Regions from separate parts of the Homo sapiens genome. Here region 1 is linked to region 2. Evidence: fine-mapped expression QTL. A gene starts in region 2. The other region holds a variant in brackets. All regions are shown on one strand. Distances are between the middles of the regions.

Region 1 (9,008 bases), 72 kb after region 2:
CACCGTGCCCGGCCTGTATTTTCTTTTCTTTTTTTTTTTTTTTTTAGTAGAGATGGGGTTTCACCATATTGGCCAGGCTGGTCTCGAACTCCTGACCTCAGGTGATCCACCTGCCTCGGCCTCCCAAAGTGCTGGGATTACAGGTGTGAGCCACCATGCCTGTCTCCTTGGTTTTTTTGTTTGTTTTGTTTTTTGTTTTCTTTTTCTTTTTCTTTTTTTTTGAGATAGGGTCTTGCTCTGTTGCCCAGGCTGCAGTGCAGTGGCATGATTGGGCTCACTGAAACCTCTGCCTCCCAGGTTCAAGCGATTCTGCTGCCTCAGTCTCCCGAGTACCTGGGATTACAGGCACATGTCATCATGCCTGGCTAATTTTTATATTTTTAGCAGAGATGGGGTTTCATCATGTGGGCCAGGCTGGTCTAGAACTCCTGACTTCAAGTGATATGCCCACCTCGGCCTCCCAAAGTGCTGGGATTACAGGCGTGAGCCACCATGCCCCAGCCCAGCTTCTCCTTCTATTTTAAGGCTGAGTAATATTCAATTGCATGTATACAATACACTTTGTTTATTCATTCACTTTTTAGGAATAGCAGGGTTGCTTTTCCCTTTTACCTACTGTGAATATGCTTCTGTGAACACAGATGCATAAAACTATGCTCAAGTTCCGGCTTTTGATCTTTTGGGCCATATACCCAGAGGTGAAATTGCTGGATCATAAGATCATTCTATTTTTAATTTTTTTGAGGAACCCCACTACTACTCTCTAGAGCAACTTCACCATTTAACTTTCCCATCAGCAATGCACAAGAGTTCCAATGCATAAGAGATCACATGGACAGCTCAGCAAGCTGAATAATGGCCACCCAAAGAAATACAGTCTCAGCTCCTTGAACTTCTAAATATTACCTTACAAATAAAGTGTCTTTGTATAATTTTTTTTGAGACAGTCTCACTCTGTTGCCCAGGCTGGAGTGCAGTGGTGCGATCTCAGCTCACTGCAACCTCCGCCTCCCAGGTTCAAGTGATTCTCCTGCCTCAGCCTCCTGAGTAGCTGGGATTACAGACGCCCGCCGCCACACCCAGCTAACTTTTGCATTTTTGGTAGAGACCAGGTTTCACCATGTTGGCCAGGCTGGTCTCGAACTCCTGACCTCGAGTGATCCACCAGCCTCAGCCTCCCAAAGTGCTGGGATTACAGGCATGAGCCACCATACTTGGCCACTGTGCAGAGAATACTGTAGCCACATGGAATACATGTGGTTAGGGCACTGTGTTAGCTAGTCTGGGCTGCCATAGCAAAATACTATAAATTAAGCCTCCTATAAACAACAGAAATTTATTTCTCACAATTCTGGAGGTTAGAAGTCCAAGGTTAGAAGATCAAGTTGTCAGATGATTTGTTTTCTTGTGAGGCTCTGTTTCCTGGCTTGTAGATGCCACCTTCTCACTGTGTCCTCACATGGTTGAGAGACAGCAAGTTCTGTGGGGTCTCTGCTTATAAGGGCACTGTATTAGTCCGTTTTCACACTGCTGGTAATGACATACCTGAGACTGGGCAATTTACCAAAGAAAGAGGTTTAATGGACTTACAGTTCCACGTGGCCGGAGAAGCCTCACAATCATGGCAGAAGGTGAAAGTCATGTCTCATATGGCGGCAGACAAGAGATGAGCTTGTGCAGGGAAACTCCCCTTTTTAAAACCATCAATCTTGTGAGAATTATTCACTATCATGAGAACAGCACAGGAAAGACCTGCCTCCATGATTCAATTACCAGCCGCAATGTCCCTCCCACAACACGTGGAAATTCATGATGAGATTTGGGTGGGGACACAGCCAAACCATATCAGGCACTAATTCCATAGTGGGTCCCCACCCTCATGACCCCATGTAACATAATTACCTACAAAAAGCCCCATCTCCAAATACATCACATTGGTGGTTAGGGCTTCAACATATGAATTTTGGGGGAACATAAACATGCAGTTCATAACAGGCATTTTACTGAAACCTTGTCATCTCCCATGCCATGAGTTTAGATCAACAAATAATCATGCGGAAAAAAAATCTATATAGAAATTTCTTACAGCAAAGCCTCTGCTCATTTTTTCGATAATCTCATTTTTTTAAATTGCAAGGAACAGAAATGAAAACCGATAGCTTAATCTGGAAAAGAAGGGTTTTATTAAAAAAACACGTTTGCTTAATTTTTGGCCCAGGCAGTGGGGAATCTGGGAACATCTCCTAACTCAAGGTCAAGATCAGCACATCACTGATATCCAATGTGACCCTCAGGGTGCTGTTTCTTGCTCTCCGCATGGTGGGCTGCAGGTGCCTGAGCCATCTTCATTCTCTGGCTAGCAATGTTCGTGCAATGTGAGGTCTCCCCAGCTCAAGGCTCATGCCGTTCCTGCAGCTGAAAGGGAGAGCAACACCTCCATCCTGTAAGCTCCAACAGCATCTTCCCGACAGCCACGAGGAGCCACATCCAGTTCTTTCCTCCATGTTTTTATGAGCGAATAGGTTGACTGGAGTTTGAACTTCTGGGTTCAAACCCTCAGAAGTTCAAGGTTCAATCCCCCATTGACCTATTCCCACACTCGATATCCATGATAAGAATGATTCTCAGGGTACATTGGGCTTGTTGACAAAGAAAGGAGGATTTTTTATAAGAATTTCCATCTCTGACTTTTGTCCAACAATTAGATTCTATTCCTTGTTTCTAAATGAAAATATGAAGAAACACATCCTTTCGGAACTAAAATAAATAACACTTTGAAGTTGAAACAGAGAAAATATGAGGCTGCACATGGAATTAGTAGGAAATTATGCTCTCATTTGAGGTTATTCTGATTTCGCCAAGGAAGATTTAAGCTCAAAAGGTAAGGTGGACAGGGAATCACCCCATGGTGAGACACATAGGGATATTCGGGCATAGAGTACAAGCTAATTAAGCTTGATATGTACGAGGAATTTCTCTTAGTAATCAATGAGAATGTGAAGTGTACAGAAAATAACTTTTGATGAACAAGGAAGAGCACATGAATTTACATACAAGAAATCTTTCCTCACTGGGCAAAAAGCTCATTCAATTTCTTTCTTTTTTTCAAGCCAGAGTCTCTGTCACCCAGGCAGGAGTGCAGTGGCATGATCTTGACTCACTGCAGCCTCAACCTCCTTGGTTCAAGAGATTCTTGTACCTCAGCCTCCCAACTAGCTGGGATTACAGTCGTGTGTCACCACGTCCCACTAGTTTTTTGAATTTTTGGTAGAGATGAGGTTTTGCTATGTTGGCCAGGCTGGTCTCAAACTCCTGGCCTCAAGTAATCCTCCCAGCTTGGCCTCCCAAAATGCTGGAATTACAGGTGTGAGCCATCATGCCCAGCTTTATTCAGTTCCTTAAGGAGGATGAGCAGCATTGAGCGGATGGGAATGTGCCTTCTCTGGAGACAGGTTTGCATGTAGAGATGCCATCATAATTTATAAGGACAGGTTTTCTCTTTTTTCCTATTTTTTAGAGATGGTGTTTTGCCATGTTTCCCAGGCTAGTCTCCAACTCCTGGGCTCAAATGATCCACTTGCCTTGACCTCCCAAAGTGCTGGGATTACAGATGTGAGCCACTGTGTATGGCTTTCTTTTTTCCTTTCCTTTTCTTTTCTTTTCCTTTTTAGACGGAGTCTCACTCTGTCACTCAGGCTGGAGTGCAGTGGTGCGATCTCGGCTCACTTCAACCTCCACCTCCTTGGTTCAAGCGATTCTCCTGCCTCAGCCTACCGAGTAGCTGGAACTCCAGGCGCGCACCACCATGCCCAGCTAATTTTTGTATTTTTAGTAGAGACAGGGTTTCACCATGCTGGCCAGGATGGTCTCCATCTCTTGACCTTGTGATCCGCCCACCTCGGCCTCCCAAAGTGCTGGGATTATAAGCGTGAGCCACCGCGCCCGACCCCAGGACAGGTTTTCTAAGGCTCATGGCCCTTGGCCATTTGCTGCATGATCTCCATCTCCATAGGGCTTTGTAGCAGCTCTCATTGCCTCTCCCACAATTCATGCATCAGGCAATGCCCAGGAACCACAAGAGTATAATTAATATTCACATTCAAAATCATAGTTGTTTCTATTCAATGTTATAGCATGCTTTTTTTTTTTTTTTTGGCTTTTAATGAAAAAAAGCATTGATTTCTGTTGTCTTGGAAATCAGAGGGGTAGACCTGGCTTCAACGGTGGCTGGATTTCAGGGTCCGATGATATAAGGGCTCATCTCTCTGTTTGCTTTTGGCTCTTGTTCTTGTTTGTTGTTGCTGCTGTGGTTGTTCATTTATTCTGCCTG[G/A]TTTTTGTTCTCAGGCTAATAAATGTAGGAGCTCTGATGTCCACTTTGCAGATGAGGACGCTGAGGCATACAGAGATCAAGTAATTTCCCTTCTGAGGCAGAGTCCGTGGACTTCCCACAGCCCCATGACACCCCCTTATGGCTGTGTATCCAACTCAACATTCCCTGCCCTGATCAGGGCGCCCCCTGCTGCTCACCCAGAGATTTGCCAGGATCCCTGCACCAATCTCCTCCACCCTTTTTGACTCCCAAATGCTTCTTGACACCTGACTCCCACCCTGTCACTCAGAGACTAACCTATGTCAAGATTTACAAACTCCCCGGGTGCGGTGGCTCACGCCTGTAATCCCAGCACTTTGGGAGCCCGAGGCGGGCGGATCACCTGAGGTCAGGAGTTCGAGACGAGCCTGGCCAACATAGGGAAACCCCCATCTCTACTAAAAATACAAAAAGTAGCTGGGCGTTGTGGCAGGCGCCTGCAATCCCAGCTATTTTGGGAGGCTGAGGCGACAGAATCGCTTGAACCTGAGAGTCAGAGGTTGCAGTGAGCCGAGATCGCGCCATTGCACTCCAGCCTGGACAACGAGAGAGAAACTCTGTCTCAAAAAAGAAGAAGAAAAAAAAAAAAACTAAACAAACAAAAAACAAACCCCCAAAAACAAAGATTTACAATCTTACCAAACAGGAATGGTAACTACAGGAAGTAGTTACTATCTGAGGTTATTGGTAATGTTATTGCTATTGTTAATGTCACTTTTTTTTCCCACTCCCATTTTCTCTGGAAGCCGTTTGGGAGGTCCTGCCTCTCACCTTCTCTATCCACTTCTTACTCCTACCAGAGGTTGTAGACAAAGATGAGGGTTGATGCATTGTGCAACTCTGTGGCTCCCCCTAGTGATATGATACATTTGGGGTGATGGGGTTTGCCTAGACAGGGCCCCAAGGATGCTGGTAGGGAGCAGGTAGGGAACCCCACCTTGTGTACAGCTCCTCAAAAATCCCAGGTTAACATTCCATTTGGTCTCCAGGCCTGATAAATGGGGAGGAGTGGCTGTTCATTAGTGTGCACTCTGGCTGCACCGGGCAGGACTTTGCCCCGGGAGGGACTGTGACGTTCTGCTCTCTTGGTAAGAAGGTACAAAGCTGGGCTCCAGAAATGGATTGAGAGCTCCTTGGGTCTGCTCCCCAGGCTGCCACCCGCCCCCAGGTGAGCCCTGGATACTGCTATTCCTGACTGAAGAGACAGGGTTTTGGACAAGGTGCTCCAGAAGGCCAGATTTCTCTCTGGGCAAGGTTCATGTGTTTCCCACACAAGTCTACTTCTGGGATTCTTCATGGATCTACAAATCGGACTAGGCAAAAGCTGTGCATGCTGCTGTGTATACAAAATAGTAAACCCTGATATAGACGATGGACTTTGGGTGCTAATACCGTATCAATGGAGGTTCATCAAGTATGACAAATGTACCACTCTGGTGGGAGATGCTGATAATAGAGGAGGTTATGCATGTGTGGGGGCAGGTGGTATATGGAGAATCTCTGTACCTTCTGCTCAATCTGTGAACCTAAACTGCTCTAAAAATTATGTCTATCCCGTCATATGCTTCTGGGAAAAATTGTCTATATATATTTTTTAAATGGAAAGAACTGGCTGGGCATAGTGGCTCAAGCCTACATCTCAGCACTTAAGGAGGCTGAAGTGGGAGGATTGCTTGAGTCCATGAGTTTGAGATCAGCCTGGGCAACATAGGCAGACTCTGTCTCTACAAAAAAAAAAAAAAAATTAGCTAGGCATGGTAGTGCATGCTTGTGGTCCCAGCTACTCGGGAGGCTGAGGCAGGAGGACTGCCTGAGCCTGGAGGGTTGAGGCTGCAGTGAACCATGATCATGCCACTGCACTCCAGCCTGGGCAACAGAGCAAGACCCTGTTTCAAAACAAATTGAAAAAAGCTTAATGCTCCTAAATAGGGTATTGGTTGAATAAGTCAACACACATCAAATTCAGTGGAATACTATGCAGCCATGAATAATTAACAGTAGTGGTGCAGAGCTGTTGCTTCTCCAGTGGGGATCCAGGACCCAAGGGCAGGGCGTGAAAAGTGCTTCAGAGGAGCTAAAGGCAGAAGGTCCACTTTGCATATCTTCTGGGGATGTCATTTATACTCAAATACTGAGTCAGGTCAATCAGACAACTTTAGTGACAATGAATGCATTATTTTCCCGTTGAAACTAACAGAAACGTGTTTTTCCATAGGCCACAAACATTCATAGGGACTTTCAGAGTAAAACAGAAGACTTCAGAGATATTTTGTAATTATATCTAGATACAGAAGACTTGAGATATTTTGTAAATATATGCTAGACACTCAGAGCTGTATATTCACCTTCCTCTGATTAAATTTGCCCTTAATGTTTCAGAATTCCTAATAAAGGACATTTAAGAATATGATCCCACTTTGGTAAACATTATGTATATGTGCATGAGTGTATATAACACATCAAAACTGAAAAGAGAGGATGGCAGATTGCAGGCATTGTTAGCCGGCCTCTCCCACCTTGGAAAGATGAAACAGTGTATAAAGATTTATGTTGTGACCTTTTCACCAGGGACCAACACAGGAACTTAACAGGAAAACTGGAAGAAACCACAGACCTTTCTAAAGAAACGGTGGGCAGCAGCCTACACCACGAGCCAGACAGAAAACTGTGAGTCCCCACAGTGTGAGAAGGGGAGAGACTGACTCAGGGATGTGCACTCCCACTGGGGTGCCACGCAGTCCAGGCCACAGGAGGGGGAAGCCCTCACCCTGCCCAGCACTGGAGCTGAGTTAGGGAGCGTTGGGGAGTAGATAAGGAGTCACATTGGGATGTGCTTGGCGTGCAGTCCTGGGCTCCAGCAGGGACAGAGGGAAGCCATTCCCGATGCTACCTCACAGGGGGCCTTGCAGAAGCCAGCTAGCTGACTCAGGAGGCGGTCACGGGTTGAGAGAAGCTCCCGACTGAGATCTGCAATGTCATCTTGAGTGGGGAAAGTAGACTTGCCCGAAATCTAAGACTCATAGGTGTTCTTGAGGGAGAAGAAAAAGCAAAAAGTTGAGAAAATTCAATGATTGGAAAGATACAGAATCAACCTAAGTGCTCTTCAACCCGAAGGAAAGGCTACAAAAGAATACACATCCCTGAGTCAGTCTCTCCCCTTCTCACACTGTGGGGACTCACAGTTTTCTGCCTGGCTCGTGGTGTAGGCTGCTGCCCACCGCTTCTTTAGAAAGGTCTGTGGTTTCTTCCAGTTTTCCTGTGAAGTCTCTGTGTTGCTCCCTGGTGCAGCTGCAGCGTAAGTAGGTTAGACAGGCGTTTCACAGCCTCCCTTACACAGCCTCCCTTAAAGGGAAACACATTTGCTAAATAGACGGAGAGAACAATCCGCCGGACAGCTCGCAAACCCCGACAGCGCATAAACCGCATCCTGGGCTCGTGGTCAAAACATCCTGTAGCAAGGAGGTAGAAGGGAAGAAGGGACAGTCCCCATATCCGTGCAAGTGCAGAAACCCATGCTTAGGTAGTGTCCTTGGGCTGACCTATGCTCATTATAATAGTGAAAACACACCCTCACGTGGAGACTTAAGGTGCTACTGAGACAGCGATGTATATGCACTAGCATGTACAGCCATTGCGCATGCGGGCCTAACAGACCACCCAGAACACGCTTAAGAGCAACACCGTCCCACCCACGCATGAGTAATCACGGAAGATTCCCCTAAAGGGAGTTTCCCCAGCGTCAGTCAGCGCTGTCTCACCTTTGAGCAGCCGCTCTGACCAGCTGTTAAGAGTGCACGTTCACTTTGCAATTAACTCTCTTGCTTACTTTTACCTTGGACTCACTCTCGAATTCTTTTCTTGAGGCAAAGTCAAGAACCGGAACTGGCCCACCAGCCATAGCAGGGGAGACTGTGTGTGCCGCGGTGCAGGCAGCACTCATGCCGGGAATGGTGAGGATGGCACCAGCTTGTCGGATTTTTTGTTGGCATTTGTGTTTGTTTCTCTACTCACCACCCAAGTGATAAAATAGGATCCTTGGTGTGGAACTTAGAATTATGCCAAAAAGCTAACAGTTCTCCTTTCTAGCCAGCTACAAAGCCAGACCATGCCCACCACTGCCATGCTTGCAAAACGGGTCACCACGGCCTGTAGGTGAGCAGTTGTGTAGGAGAAAAGAATCCAATTTTTTTGTGTGCTCTTTACTATTATGTAGACAGCTCCGTCTTCAGCCCACACTTTGGTTCCCTGTGGATTTCAGTTTGTGTCCTGTGTCTGAGGACAGCGGACTGAATACAGTGATTTTTTACCTCCAATAAATGTCATCCCGCTGCCCTTCCTGTGCCTCGAGGGTTGTCTGTTTTTCTCTTTCTTTTTCTTTCTTTCTCTTTCTTTCTTTCTTGCTTACTTTTCTTTCTTTCCTTCCTTCCTTCCTTTTCTTTCTTTCTTGTCTCCTTCCTTCCTTCCTTAACTCCTTCTTTCTTTTTGACAGAGTCTTGCTCTGTCACTCAGGCTGAAGTGCAGTGGCATTATCCCAGCTCACTGCAACCTCCACCTTCCAGGTTCAAGCGATTCTCCTGCCTCAGCCTCCCGAGTAGCTGGGATTACAGGCGCTCGCCACCACGCCCAGCTAATTTTTTGC
Region 2 (9,008 bases):
GGCTAGGATGGTCTTGAACTCCTGACCTCGTGATCCACCCACCTCAGCCTCCCAAAGTGTGTGTTTACAGGCGTGAGCCACCAGGCCCAGCCTTTCTCCTGGGGTCTTGAAAGAGGCCCTGAAGGTTAAGCTTCATCAGCTTCCTGTAAAATGTGCCCCTGAACAGGACAGGGTGTTACTGAGTTGCCAAATACCTATTAAAATGTTAGATACACGCACATACCCAGAAACATACACACAGCCGGACACACATACACACACACACACACACACACACACACACACACACACACACGAATACACTCTGAGCACAGCATTTGTTATGTTTTGAATAAATGACTAACTAAACATCCATTACTACTACTCCCAATAAAAACACTTATTGCAGCTGGTCACAGTGGCTCACACCTGTAATCCCAGCACGTTGGGAGGCTGAGGCGGGTGGATTACCTGAGGTCAGGAGGTCTAGACCAGCCTGGCTAACATAGCAAAACCTCGTTTCTACTAAAAATACAAAAATTAGCCAGGCGTGGTGGCTCACACGTGTAATCCCAGCTACTCAGGAGGCTGAGGCAGAGTTGCTTGAACCTGGGAAGTGGAGGTTCCAGTGAGCTGAGATCATGCCACTGCACTCCAGCCTGGGCAACAGAGATAGACTCCGTCTCAAAAAATAAAACAAAACAAACCACTGTGTGCCAGGCACTGTTCCAAGGGCTTATTTAATTTTCATTACAACTCAATAAAGTAGATAGTACCATCATCCCCATTGTACAGAGTAGAAAAATGAGGCTTAGAGTGGTGAAGCAATTTCCTCAAGGTCACACAGCAGGAAGTGGACGCAGGCGCTGGGCTTGGAGTCTGAGGTCTGCACTATTCTAGTAGTGAACCCACTGTCTCAGGAAGCAGTGACCACATCAAACTGTCTCCCCCACACCTGGAGCTCAAATTCCAGAAGGGGCGACAGACACCAGAGCAATCAATAAGTAAACAACACTGTGGATTACAAAGTGTCCACACCAGCTTCCCTCTGGGGACAAGCTGGGCTCTCAGAGGGTGCCCCTGCTCCCACCTCCTTCATGGAGAATGTGAGTCACTCCCTCCACTCAGTTAGGTTGGCTCCTTGAACTTTCATCTCTAGCAAACATACTTTCCTCTCCCTTTCTAGTTGCTAAGTATAGGGGAAAACACAGCAAAACACAGGGACCTGGGGCCTGTGATTTTAAGGAGGCAAGCAGGGAAGTCCTCCCAGAGAAGGTGATGTTTGAAAAGGAGGTGAAAGAGGTCAGGGAGTGAGCACGTGATTCTGGGAACAGAGGTGGATCAGACATGGCCCCTCTCTGCAGGGAGCTACCAGCCTGGGGATGATGGAGTAGGGCAGTGGGGAACATGGGGTAAACAGAGGATCCCAATCCAGTCTGGCGAGGGCTGATGGAAGCAAATCTAGGGACTGCAGAAGCCCCCAGGGATATACCAAGGCAACCTGAGGGTGTAGGGTCAGGGGCTTCCTGGAGGAGGCGATGCCAGGGAGAATCACTAAATTATTATTATTATTATTTTGAGACTGAGTCTAGCTCTGTCACCCAGGCTGGAGTACAGGGACACAATCCTGGCTCACTGCAACCTCTGCCTCCCAGGTTCAAGCGATTCTCCTGCCTCAGCCTCCCGAGTAGCTGGGACTACAGATACGTGCCACCATGCCTGGCTAATTTTTTTATTTTTAGGAGAGATGGGGTTTCACCATGTTGGCCTGGCTGGTCTCAAACTCCTGACCTCAACTGATCCACTCGCCTCAGCCTCACAAAGTGCAGGGATTAGAGGTGTGAGCCACCGCGCCTGGCCGAGAATCACTAGATTTTGATATAATCCATGAGTTGGAGTTGGGCAGGACAAAGGACAGAAAGCAGAGGTAGGAGGGTGGTGCTGGAAGAAGGCATGGAACGGGCAAGCCGCGGCCTGGTCTGTCAGGACAGGAGGAGCAGGTCACAGTGGCAGAAGCACAAAGGGTAAGGGAGGGTCCAAGGAGGGAAGTGGACGGCTGAAGCAGACCATGAAGAGGAGGCTGGACCACAAAGCATCCCAAATGCCAGGCAGAGGGGCTGCGACTCTGTCCTGAGGGTGCTGGGGAGCCACAGGCAGGCTGGGAGCAGGGGAGAGCAGGGTGAGCTCTGGGTGCAGAAAGGCCCCTAAGGCTGGGTAGAGGTGGGCTGAGAGGGAGAGACTGGGAGTGAGGGAGGACCCGGGTGAGGGTCCAGGTGAGACAATGACACCAAGAGACAATAGGGCAAGAAGGGTGGGGGGTGGAGAACTGACAGCTTTGGGAGAAGGGAAAGAGGGTGGGACAGTACCCAGGTCTAATCTGGTGTTTAGGAAGCTGGCAGGGTCTGAATCATTTATTTGTTCTGAAAAGGACATCAACAGACACATCCAGTGAGACAGGATGTAATGCAGGGAGCCCTGGGGCACTGCGGGAGGGGAAGGCAGCACCCTCTGGAAAGGACAGTAGCTGATTCAACGCGGCCTTCACGCTTCCCCTCTGTTCTCTCCCTGAGCACACCAGAGACATCCATGTGCCAGGCTCTGTGCTGAGTGATGCTGGGACCAGAGCTGAGTCAAACGTGGGCCTGCACCATGGGGGAGACGGATCCAATCCCAGACATGCCAGGCGTGGAAGGCCAGGGCTGGGATGGAGAGAAGAGGCCCAGGGAGCTGTAGGACTCCAAAGATGTGACAGTAACGAACAGTCAGAGCAGGGAGGAAACCAAGTGTTGGGTCCCAGGACCCCAAGAGGAATGTGTCTCAAAAGGGCTACAGGTGACATCCCTGTCATGTGCTGCCAGAGGCATCATTAGGACAGGGGGCATTGAGGGAGATGGGAGAGCAGAGTCTAGAGCCAGACTTGCCCGGGGTTTCGATCGTAACTCTGCCACTTACTGGCTGGGAGATCTGACAGGCCTCAGTTTCCTCATCTATCCAATGGAATTAATAATACAAAGGGTCGGCCAGGCACGGTGGCTCACACCTGTAATCCCAGCACTTTGGGGGGCCGAGGCAGGCGGGTGGATCACCTGAGGTCTGGAGTTTGAGACCAGCCTGACCAACATGGTGAAACCCCATCTCTACTAAAAATACAAAAAATTAGCCAGGTGTGGTGGCACATGCCTGTAATCCCAGCTACCTGGGAGGCTGAGGTAGGAGAATTGCTTGAACTCGGGAGGCTGAGGTTGCAGTGAGCCAAGACTGCGCCATTGCACTCCAGCCTGGGCAAAAAGAGCAAAACTCCGTCTCAAAAAATAAAAATAAATAATAAATAATACAAAGGGTACTGAAAGGACTGAATGGGTTAATCTCTGCAAAGGACTTGGAACGATGCCTGCCACGTAAGTACCCGCTAAATGCTGGCTGCTATCATCACTGACACTTTCATGCTCAAGTCTGGCTCCTGTACCCTCTTCCCCAGCCCACTCCCTAAGCAGGCAGGGGCAGTATCAGTGTCAACTTTGTGACCCTGGTTTTGCCCACCCTGAGGCCTCCAGGGTGCCAGGCCCTGCGCTAGGTAATGCTGGGGACACGGAGGTAAGTCCCCAGGCTGATGGGAAGGACAGACATGGACAGACAGTCACCATCTTCAGTCCAGTTCAGGCCAAGCATTGAGAGAAACGGGCCTGAGAGACCGTGTCTGATTCACCTCTGTCCACACCAGCTTCCCTCTGGGGACAACAAGCCAGGCGCTGAGAGCACCCTCCCCCACCTCTTTCATGGAGAATGTGAGCTACCCCCAGCTCAGTCAGGTTGGCTCCTTGAACTTTCATCTCTAGCAAACACACTTCTCTCTCCCTAGCTAGAGCCTCCTGGCTCACCCTGTGGCTATGGAGGGTGGAAAGCAGCTTCTGGGGCCCCACAGGACCCTGTCTGACTCCCTCTATAGCACATTTCGGGTAATATAAGAGTACAATGGTAAGTAATGCAGCCTAGTGGGTGAAAGCAGTCAGAGGAACCTGGATAGAACTCTCGGCTCTGCCCTTCTCTAGCTGGGTGACCTCTCTGTGCCTCAGTTTCTCCGTGCATTAAACAGGGACCGTGACTTCTTCCAGTGGGTAAGAAATAGAGAAAGCAACTCACTCTGAACAGTTATCAAGAGAGTGAATCCAGAACGAGGGAAAAGAGAACATGGCCGTGACCCCGGAGGGATCGGATGTTAGAACTTCACTCTTGGATTTTTGCCCTCAGGTGACTTTGACGTTTGGGGGTTAAAGCGGCAGAGGTCGGGGGTTACGAGAAGACCCCCACCCAGTGTGCGCTCGTGGCCCCGGAAGCACACGGCTGCGGGACTCAGGGATGTGGGAGAGGGGGGCCCGATCACCTTCACGGCGTAGTCGATGACCCTCTTGACAGCTACGAGCACGCGCAGCTCCGCCATCTTCCCGCCGCAGCCACTTACAGGGTCAGCCCGCACCCTCAGCGGCTCAGTCCAGAAGCCCCACCACCCCCGCCCCCCGCGCCCCTCTCTGCGCCTGCGCGCAGCACGGTCAGCCAGTCAACCGCTGCAGAGCCCGCCTCCCCGACAGAGGACCAATCGAGAGGCCGGAAGGAAGGGAGGTGTGGCAAGCAATGCAAACCAATGGGAAGCGGATCTCGGGGAGCGAGCGGGACCTGGAGAGAGAAGGAAAGGCCTGGCGGAGAGGGCAGGGCAGAGAACTAGGGGAAAGGTCGTGCACTGGAGGGAAGCGCGCCCGGAGTTTATAGATCCTCCCGGTCCTATAAACACTTCCCGGTATCCCCGGATCTGCTCTCCCTCTCCAGATCCCCCACTTCTTCCCGGCCTCTCCAAGTCGCGGTACTCGTATTCCCACGCCTCTGAATCCTCGCGCGTCGGTCTCTCCACTCTCTCCATCCCCGTGTTCCCTGTCCCTTCCATATCCGTATCCTCCCCTGTCCGTGTCTCTACTTCACCTCCATGTCGTCCCCACAGCCTCTCCACACCCTCTCCAAAGGCCCACGTCCCCTCCTGGCCCCGCCCCTCCCACATGTCCCTGTTCCCATCCCAATCCATGGAGACTTGTGTCTCCATGTCTGTGTCTCCCTGTCTCCACGTTCCCTATGAGTTCATGTCCTTATGTCTTCCCTGAGCCTCTATGCAACCCCGTGCCTGCGTCCCCACGACCCGCAGAAAAGCACGCGGAGCCGCAGCGCTAAAAAAAGCCGTTCCTTTATTCTGCCCCAGGCAGGCTGCAGTCACAGACACACGGGGAATCCACTGATGGCGTCGGTGCTCTGCATGATCATGTCTGCCAGCAGAAAGCAGAAGCCTGGGGGGACGGGGGTGCGGAGCAGGGAGAGGAAGGTGGGCCCTGGGGCGGATGGCCGGGAGGGCCCCGGGGACTGGGGTTTGGGGCTCCAAGGGGGTCTCTGCCGGGTCTGCGGGAGTCGTTAGTGTGTTGGGGAGTCCCCGAGAGGTCCCCGGGGTTTCCTGGGAGGGCAGCTGGGGAGCCTCTGGGGTGAGGGTCTTCTGGGCAGTCTCCTCCACCCTCTTCCCGCTGTCCAGTTTACCCGCGAGAATTGAGAAGGGTAAGGCCAGCCACCCAGAAAAATAGGACCAAGAGAAGAAGACGTTGTTCTTCCACGCATTCTTCACGGTGTAGCCTATCAAGGCGGTCAGCAGCAGCAGTCCTGGGCCCCGCCCAGCCGCAAGATGAGCTAGCTGGGCCTGGTGGGGGCTGCACCCAGGCCACGCCCCTTCAGACCCGCCCCCTTCTATCAGACCACGCCTATCGCCTCTCAGCCCGCCCCTGGCCCAGGCCCCTTCCTGCTCCTCCCGCTCTGAACTCTGTCTCGAGCCCCGCCCACCTCTCTCGGCTTCTTCCAGCCCTGCCCCTCGGATCCTGGCCGAGTACCTCAAGCCCCTCCCCTGGCGACCAGGCCCCTCCATCACCCAGGGCCCGCCCCTGCCTGCCCGCCTGGGGCGGTCTGCAGTCTCACCGCCGAGGAAGAGGAAGGCGCTCGTGGTCTGGCCCCGCAGCGACTCGCCCTCGTCGCACCGAATCCGCAGTCCCATCACCATGCCCACCACGCCGACACCCACCGCCAGCACCATGCACGCCACAGTCACCGCCAGCGTGGCTGGGGAGAGCGGGCGCATCAGCCCCCGCGGGCGCCGCCCCAGTCACTACGGGTTCGGCCGCAACCGGAAGCTCTCCCGTCTCCTGCCCCCAACCCGGTGTGTGGCCAGGAGCCGAGCTCCACCGACCGGGAGTCAGGCGTTTGGATTGAGACTTGGAGGTCACATCAGGACCTGCGGTTACTGCCGCTACCAGGACGGGGAGGGGGTCGGGGACAAGCCCACAAGTCGAGGGGCGGGGTTCGTGGCGGCCTCGGCCGACAAGGGACAGCTGCAACTGAGCCCGGGGTGGAAGGGGTGGGCGTCTCGCCATGGGCCCAGCTGTGTGTCCCGAGCCCTGGGGGTCTGAAATGCCCTCTGACATCTGGGCGGGCGGAGCCTCACTCTGGCAGGGGATGCTGGAGCAGATGCCGTGGTTGCATTCCTGCCACAGGCCACTGTGGCCCTCTTGTTGGCGGGTCCAGTAGTTGGTGGCCGTGGAGAGCACCATGAGGACGTTGGCCACGAGGCTGAGCAGAATGCCCCCACTCTGGAGGCTCCGCTTCACCCCCATGCCACTGAGGCTGCAGCCGGGGGCCACAAGGGCAGGATGGGCCCAGGCCTTTCCTACCCCGAGGCCCCCAGCTGAGGAGCCCGCTTCCTCCACACTCCTCCCCTGGTACTCCTGCCTGAGGTCCCTGCTTCTGGGGACCTGGAGACCCCCCTCCCTCAACAACCCTGCCTGAGGATCCACAACCTCCTCCCTCCAGACCTCGTTCCCCTTACTGGAGACCTTGAGACTTCCCCTGAGAGGCCTCTGAGACCTTCACCACAGGCTTTGCTGTGAGGAACCTGTCTTCCCAGAGACCTCCCCCGACAGCCGAACGCCCTTTCAGCCCAGCCTGTTCAATGTCCTCCCCAGACACCCCTCCACACAGGCCCACCTAAGTGACTCACACCCAGTGCCCTAGGGCTCCTTAGACACAGAGCCCAGAGAGACGGGGGGAGGGAGGCTGGGTCTCTGTGAGGCCAGGGGTTCCAGAACCCCCTCCCCCAGTGGCTGTTTAAAGGGATAATCACTCCCCCCACCACCATCGCATACACCCCCGCAGCTCTCAACTGAGTGACTGCTTAGATTCAGATCTCAGCTTTGGGGGCCGTTACATGATAGGCCGAGTCCTTCTTTTATCATTATTATCATTATTATTTTTTGAGATGGAGTCTTGCTCTGTCACCCAGGCTGGAGCGCAGTGGCACGATCTCGGCTCACTGCAACCTCCACCTCCTGGGTTCAAGCAATTCTTCTGCCTCAGCCTCACAAGTAGCTGGGACTGCAGGCGCACACCACCACATCTGGCTAATTTTTGTATTTTTAGTAGAGACGGGGTTTCACCATATTGGCCAGGCTGGTCTTGGACTCCTGACCTTGTGATCTGCCTGCCTCAGCCTCCCAAAGTGCTGGGATTACAGGCGTGAGCCATCTCTCTCTCCCAGGCTGGAGTGCAGTGGCACCATCACAGCTCACTGCAGCCTTGAACTCCTGGGCTCAAGGAAACCTCCTGCCTCGGCCTCCTGAGTAGCTGGGACTACAGGCATGTGCCACCACACCTGGCTAATTTTCTTAAGATTTTTTGTAGAGATGGGGTCTTGCTATGTTGCCCAATCTGATCTCAAACTCTTGGGCTCAAGCGATCCTCCTACCTTGGCCTCCCAAAATGCTGACATTATGGATGTGAGCCACCACTCCCAGCCCTTTCTTAGAAACTTCTCTTTCCCTTGGCCGGGTGCGCAGTGGCTCACGCCTGTAATCCCAGCACTTTAGGAGGCCGAGGCGGGCAGATCACCTGAAGTCAGGGGTTTGAGACAAGCCTGACCAACATGGCAAAACCCCGTCTCTACTAAAAATACAAAAATTAGCCAGGCTAGCCGGGGGTGATGGCAGGTGCCTATAATCCCAGCTACTGGGGATGCGAGGCAGGAGAATCACTTGAACCCGGGAGGTGGAGGTTGCAGTTAGCTGAGATCGCGCCATTGCATTCTAGCCTGGGCGACAGAGCAAGACTCCATCTCAAAAAAAAAAAAAAAAAGACAAAATTAGCCAGGTATGGTGGCGCACGCCTGTAATCCCAGCTACTCAAGAGGCTGAGGGAGGAGAATTGCTTGAACCCGGGAGGCAGAGGTTGCAGTGAGCCAAGATCACACCACTGCACTCCAGCCTGGGTGATAGAACAAGACTCCGTCTCAAAAAAAAAAAACAACCTTCTCTTCCCTTGACATTCTAGGCACCGCAGAAGCTCTCCAGGTCCCCAGCTGTCTGACTGCAGACTTCTGCTCCTCTGCCTTCTCCCCTTCACTTGTAAATCTGGGTATCCCTTGAAGCTCCACCCTGCACTCTCTTGCCAGGCAAGCCTCCTCACGGCCAAAGTTTCAGTGCTCCTTAATGCTCCATCCAAAACTCCATCTCCAACCCAAGGTCTCTCCCCTGAGCCTGACTCAAGTTCTCACCTGCTCCTGGCTGCCCCTCAGGGCCTTAATAGTCAACCATATTCCAACTGAGCTTAGTGTCTTCCACCATATTAGGGATGGCCCTGCCATCCCATCCAGTTCATCGAGCCAGACCCTTGGGCACTGTCCTCACCTTCTTCTTGCCCTTCACCCTGAAAAGCCTTGGGTCCCTAAGTCCTGCTCCTCCTGCCCCTGAATCTGTCTGGCTCATTCCCTCCTTTCCTGGTCCCAGGTCAGGCCTCATCATGTCCCACCTATTGCATTGCCAAGTTCCTCCCTCACCTTCTGGCCTCCCCTCCATGTCTACAGGGGGGTCTTTCTGGCACCCAGAGCTGACACTGTCCCTCCCCTGCCCACAATTTTTCTCCCAACTCCCCATCATGTTCAAGAGAAAGTCCAGCATGACATT

Evidence for each region.
Region 1: its variant is fine-mapped to the expression of ETFB in whole blood (TOPMed, PIP 0.98).

What each region holds. Positions count from the first base shown.
Region 1 is chr19:51,433,913-51,442,920 of GRCh38, forward strand. No RefSeq gene overlaps it. Among named protein-coding and RNA genes, the nearest start is that of SIGLEC8, 20 kb to the right of the region's middle. RefSeq lists a silencer at 4,720-4,890 and enhancers at 7,411-7,700, 8,001-8,140. The variant G/A (reference allele first, on the strand shown) is at 4,331.
Region 2 is chr19:51,361,910-51,370,917 of GRCh38, forward strand. It overlaps ETFB (electron transfer flavoprotein subunit beta), which reads right to left and starts at 4,479. Exons shown (of 6, transcript NM_001985.3): 1 at 4,361-4,479. The coding sequence starts at 4,417. CLDND2 (claudin domain containing 2) reads right to left here and starts at 7,094. Exons shown (of 4, transcript NM_152353.3): 1 at 6,500-7,094; 2 at 5,977-6,117; 3 at 5,548-5,667; 4 at 5,189-5,306. The coding sequence starts at 6,668. The coding sequence ends at 5,233. RefSeq lists enhancers at 4,086-5,045, 6,004-6,963, 6,105-6,204, 6,615-6,664 and silencers at 5,275-5,324, 5,595-5,924.